Regions from separate parts of the Homo sapiens genome. Here region 1 is linked to region 2. Evidence: fine-mapped expression QTL. A gene starts in region 2. The other region holds a variant in brackets. All regions are shown on one strand. Distances are between the middles of the regions.

Region 1 (2,912 bases), 55 kb after region 2:
TGAAGAATTAAGTTTGTTTATAATGATATTCCTGACAACTACATTGCAAGCTGCTTTCATAGCTTTGTTAACATGTAGGCCTTCGTTATACTCTTTATTATTATTATAATTTTTAATCATTTAAAATGTTTATGATTGTGGATAATACTTCTCTAATAGGGAAATGTTTACAGCAGAGGAGCCATTACAGCCAGGAACTTATGTGTGGGCTACATAAAATTTGGTGTTGAGGGAGTTTTAGATGATACTTGGTGGCTTTCTCAGGATGGTGTAACATGGGCTAGATCAGAGTCTTATTAATTCCCAAATCTGTTCCTAATTAATTCTTCCTCCACCCCACAAAAAGCCGATAAGGAGATAACTTTGTCAGGAATCTGTGTACTTATTGCTGTGTCAATTTAGGCTTTCAGTACTGTACTATATAAGGGATTCCAAGAGGAAATTTTGTAATCTCTGGATTCAGAATTTTCTTTTTTTTTTTTTTCTTCTTTTTCTTGAGACAGAGTCTTGCTCTGTCGCCCATGCTGGAGTGCAGTGGCAAGATCTCAGCTCACTGCAAATTCCATCTCCCAGATTCAAGTGATTCTCCTGCCTCAGCCTCCCATGAAGCTGGGATTACAGGCAGCCACCACCATATCCAGCTAATTCTTTTATTTTTAGTAGAGATGAGGTTTTGCCATGTTGGCCAGGCTGGTCTCAAACTCCTGACCTCAAGTGATCCACCTGCTTGGCCTCCCAAAGTGCTGGGATTACAGGTGTGAGCCACTGCTCCCAGCCAAGTATTCAATAATTTTCATAAGAAAAGAAACCAACAGTCAGCTGACTCTCATCCTAGAAATTCTAAACTACTATTTTTTTTCCCCCTGGATAAAGTTGGGTTTTTAGAAACTGATGATTTTTTAGTAAACTTCCCTGGAGTAACCAACTGAGTCAGTGCCTTTATTAGTTACAAATACATGTGATCCCTAAATTCTCACCTGTAGGATCTAATCTCAAAGGCTTGGGCCCTGAGACTATGCAGCTATAAAAATTGGTTAGGTACCAAGTTGATCACAAAATGGGATTATCTTTCTAAGTAAATATTTGCCAAAAACTAGTTAATCAAAGATATCCCCCACCCCTTGTGTGCTGTTCTTTACTCTAAGGCTGGAGCCATGTAGACACTGGGGCATTTTTGTTAAGTGATAGCTCCTGTCCCCAGGTTCCTTACTGTCTACACCATTATAGATTATTCATACAACTTGATGATTTGCCTTGATGTTTTCTCTCCTTTCCTCCTATCCCTTCTTTCTCTTTGTTTTACACTCTTTGTTGCGGTGATGAGTTCCTTCCAGAGGAAAAACAAGAAATCCAGAAAAGGTAGAGTACTTCAATGT[C/T]ACATCAGTTTTTCTTCTCCAGTTTGACACTTACCAGTTCCCATGCTCATTTGAATTAAGGTTCTGTTTTGCTAGCTGCCTCCTGGATTGTAATTCTGGTCCCCATCTAAGGCCAGGATCATCAGACACCTGAAAAATAATCACGTTCACCCTGAGAGCAAGGGAAGAGAGACTTTTCTCAGGATAAAAGGAAATCCAGACAACCAACACTGCAGAGAACAGAGCCTGATCCCCTAAGCAACCTGCCGAGAACCAGAGGGACCAAATGAGGAACCTTACTGCAGTTTATCATTTGAAATGCTTTGTAGGAAGAGGGAGGTAGGGAAAATTATTTTGTTCATGCTGAAAAAAGTGTTTCTTTCCTGTCTCTGGGAATGAGAGTAGATGAGAGATACTGAATTTACTCCTTGATCTGGCGGTTTTTATTAGGTGGTAGTTCTTTTATGCATTAAATATAGATGGTATATAACCTTTCAGATCTAAAATGAAAAAAGTCGGAGAAATGGATCTTTCCCCATCTCTGCATTCCCTTGTACTCCTTAAAAAGTACAAGTACATTCTCCGACAGTGCCCTCTTCTGGCTAAGACATTCTACATCTTTTTTTAATTCATTACTCTGTAATCTTGGAACTTGTATTTTAACACATCTGAAGATGAAAGCCTTCAGAAATCTCTAATTTGCTTCTATGTAAACTCCCAGATTCCACCCTTGTGCAAACTAATAATTAGGCTGAAATATTGCAAAATGATTCCTCCGGAAGTGATAACCTCATGATTTTATGAGGATAGTCTTAGCTGTCCTAACTCTGAGAAATAACCAACTGTTTGTTATCTAAGGGCCATCTCTAGCTTTTTTATGTGCACATTTAAGGACACCATGGTGTTCTCCCTCCACTGTGACTAGTGGGGACCTTTGACCACCTCAGAAGCAAGGGGGCAAATATATCGAGAGAGACCTTAAAGCCAGGAGACTTGATGATCTACCATGCTTTCAAATAATTAGACATGCTCTGGGAAGCTTGGAGGTTACTCCTTCCTCTGCCTTCTTGGAGAGCAGACAGATGTAAGCTATCCCTGATACTCTTACCTGCTTACTAGAACTTGAATAATGCACCTTTGGAATAGGGCTTTTGTCATTTCTCTTCCAGAAGGAGAGTCATGCTATGTGGTGCCAAGAGGAAATTTGATGGCTCAGCTCACTAATAAATCTTGTGGACAAACTTAATTTCTTCATTCCATAGATAAAGAACTGTGAATCCTATTGAAGGGTCTTTTTATGTTCTTTCTGGCTTCCCAAGTCAGTAAGGTACCTCAAACCAGGGAGATAAAAGTGCCTGCTTTGAGCATTGCTACCCAGGTGCTGAAGGTGAACATGGGTGGAATCTAGGATTTTGGAAGCAGACAATGGCTTTTAGCTAAGCGCATTCTCAAGCTCAGTGACATCTAGGTCTCAGATAGACTTGAGCCCTTGTCATGAGACTGGTCTGGTTTATGGCATGGTCTGTGAGCCTACTTTTTTGCTTCTTTGAGTCCAGG
Region 2 (2,912 bases):
AGTAAATACCCCAGACTTTTGGATGGGACCATCAAGGACTAGCTAGGAATAAGGGTGAACCGGAAATAAATTAGCTTTCCCAAAGACTGAAGACCGGCTCTGAATAATCAGTCTTAGTTCCTTATTGGAATAAGGTGATCTGTCTTCAGTCTAGCTGTGGTCAGGCAAACTTGCCCTTAAGTCTCTCCTGTTGAACACACCTTCCCTTTCCCCAGCCCCCTTGCTCAAACTCAACTCTGATCTTAGTAAACACAACATCAGCGGGAGAATGCTGATGCAGCAGAGAGAAGTCCAGGACAAATGAACATTGCATAACCTAGGATTCAGGTAGAGTGGTCCTCTCTCCTCTCCTCTTCCCTGGGACATTTATAAATGTATTAATCTACCTCATCTCTTTCACCTTGCTTCTTGGCATGTGTTTTAAATCTGTCTACTATTCCGTGATCCCTGCTAGGCTGGCTTCAGTTTTTCTTCTTTTGAAGCCACTACTCCATTTGCTCCCCCAAAGAATTCCATGAAATTTAACATTAGCAATCATTTGCTCCAAGTTTTCGTTTGAGAGCAGTTGAGAGTAAAACGAGTATGTGTTTCATGTAGTTTCATTATTATTATTATTATTATTGTTATTATTATTTTTGAGGCAGGGTCTCACTCCGGTTGCCCAGGCTGGAGTGTAGTGGCGCGATCTCGGCTCACTGCAGTCTCACCGTCAACCCCGGGCTCAGGTGATTCTCCCACCTCAGCCTCCCGAGTAGCTGGGACTTCAGGCGCCCGTCACCACCCCCTGCTAATTTTTGTGTTTTTAGTAGAGACGGGGTTTCGCCATGTTGCCCAGGCTAGTCTCAAAACTCCTAGCCTCAAGTGATCCACCCACCTCGGCCTCCCAAGGTGCTGGGATTACAGGTGTGAGCCACCGCGCCCGGCCCTTAATTATTTTTGATACTACGCATACGTTATCAAGCAAAGGGGATGGGAGATAACTAAAAAAGGAATGTCCAGAAGCTTCCTGCATTCATGCTGCATGTGAGCCCTTTAGACACGAGGCGCTGACCTACTAATTTTGTAATACTCCCTCAGCCTTCAATCATTCCATCATTCATTCCATCAACGCGTATTAGGTACTTAGAAGCTATACAGAGGTGAGCATCGATCCGCCCTGGAAGAGCTTAGCAAAGACAGGTTTGTACATATAACTTTCTCCAACCTTTGCCATGGTCTGCAAACCTCCTTCTTAGCGAGACCCCCTCCCCGACCCCCGACTCTTCACAGGCTGGGCGCTAACCATTAGGAATGTCCGGCGAGAGAGCGTTACAAGACTACGTCTCCCGGCAGCCTCTGCGACAAGCGCCGGAGGGGCGCGCGTAGGCGCTCGGGCCGGCCCCCGCACGCAGGCGCACTGCGAACGCCGGCTGAGCTGAGTCTCGCTGCTCGGTGCGAGGCGGCGGAGAGCGAGGCCTGGTGAGCACCGCCGAGGCGCGGGCCAGCTCTTCGAGGTTGTGCGCGGGAGTGGCACGGCGGGCGGGCGAGCGAGGGGCTAACTTCAGCGGTGGCACCGGGATCGGTTGCCTTGAGCCTGGTGAGTGCTGGGGCCTTGCGGCCCCGGCCCCTCCCCCTCCCGCCGGCAGATCCGGGCAGTCCCGGAGGGACTCAGGAGAGGCCCTGGGGCGAGGGCGGGTGCCGGCAGGGCCTAGAGCCGGGGTTCCTGGGCCGGACGCTCGCGCCGCGTCCGTGCGTCACGGGCCCGGCTGTCCTAACGGCCACAAGGCCGGCGGAGGAGAGGGTGGGGGTGGGGAGCCCTGGTGTGATCGCCATCGGGAACGCCGGTCGAGGCTAGGCGGGGCGGGGCGGCGTGGCGCGGCGGCGGGGCTGTAAGCGGCGCCGGGGACTGCGGGGCGCCGAGGCAGCGGGCGGAGAGGAGGCGAGCGCGGAGCCTGCGCCGCGGCCGGGCGGCGGGCGGGAGGCGGGGGTGGGCCGCGCAGAGCGCTGTGACAGAGGCAGGAAGGAGCAGGGGTGGCGTGTAAAAATTCTAACCCTGGCAAAAAGGGACCGTCTTGGGAATTCACAAGTTACAGACCGGGTCGGAGCCGGCGGCCCGGAGGGAGGTGGGGGAAGCGGGGGGTGGAGACGGCCGGCTGCAGTTTACCGATGTCATAACAACATGGGCCTGGAGCGGCTGATCGGGGGTGTGGTAATTATAGCAATGACAGAACTTGGTCTGCACGCCGCGTGTGCGATGCGAGGGAAGCAGCGAGGTATCGGATTAAGCTCAAAACGGGAGGAGGAAACAAGGATGACTGGAGTCAAGGAAGTCGTCATGAAGTAATGTTTTAGGATTGGGTCGTGTTCCACTTTTAAATGAAAGCGTTCAAAATATTTGATTTTTAAGGTTTCAACTCAGAACAAACGATTGCCGAGTTTTTGTTTGTATTTTAAAGAGATGGGGTCTCGCTATATTGCCCAGGCTGTACTCCAACTCCTGAGCTCAAACTGTCCTCTTGCCTCAGCTTCCCAAGTAGCTGGGACTAGTCTTGGGCAACCACACCCAGCTCTGCAGAGTATTTTTTTTTCTGAAACGTACTGTCAAGTAATATTAACTTGAATTTCACCCTTTTTTCTTAAATAAACGGTTGCTTAAAAATCTCTATTAGTAGATGAAGTGATTTCCCCCCTCCTGTTTTGTTTTTTTTTTTCTTAAGAGATGGAGTCTTGCTTTGTTTCCCGGGCTGATCTGGAACTCCTGGCCTCAAGGCATCCTCCCTACTAGCTGGAACTACAGGCGGATGCCACCAGCAAGGCTCATTCTCGACATTGTTTTTGTCTTAACTAGCTTTTGCATTTGTAATATTTTGAAAGCAGTACACAAGTTATTTTTCCCTCCTTTTTAAAGATCAAAGAGATGAAAATTTAATTTT

What was found.
Region 1: its variant is fine-mapped to the expression of KPNA1 in whole blood (TOPMed, PIP above 0.99).

What each region holds. Positions count from the first base shown.
Region 1 is chr3:122,458,221-122,461,132 of GRCh38, reverse strand. The region is part of intron 5 of KPNA1 (karyopherin subunit alpha 1); the gene reads left to right. Among named protein-coding and RNA genes, the nearest start is that of WDR5B-DT, 43 kb to the right of the region's middle. The variant C/T (reference allele first, on the strand shown) is at 1,377.
Region 2 is chr3:122,513,421-122,516,332 of GRCh38, reverse strand. KPNA1 (karyopherin subunit alpha 1) reads left to right here and starts at 1,394. Exons shown (of 14, transcript NM_002264.4): 1 at 1,394-1,576. It overlaps LOC107984000 (a long non-coding RNA gene), which reads right to left and starts at 1,304. Exons shown (of 2, transcript XR_924403.3): 1 at 1,205-1,304. RefSeq lists a silencer at 1,427-2,116.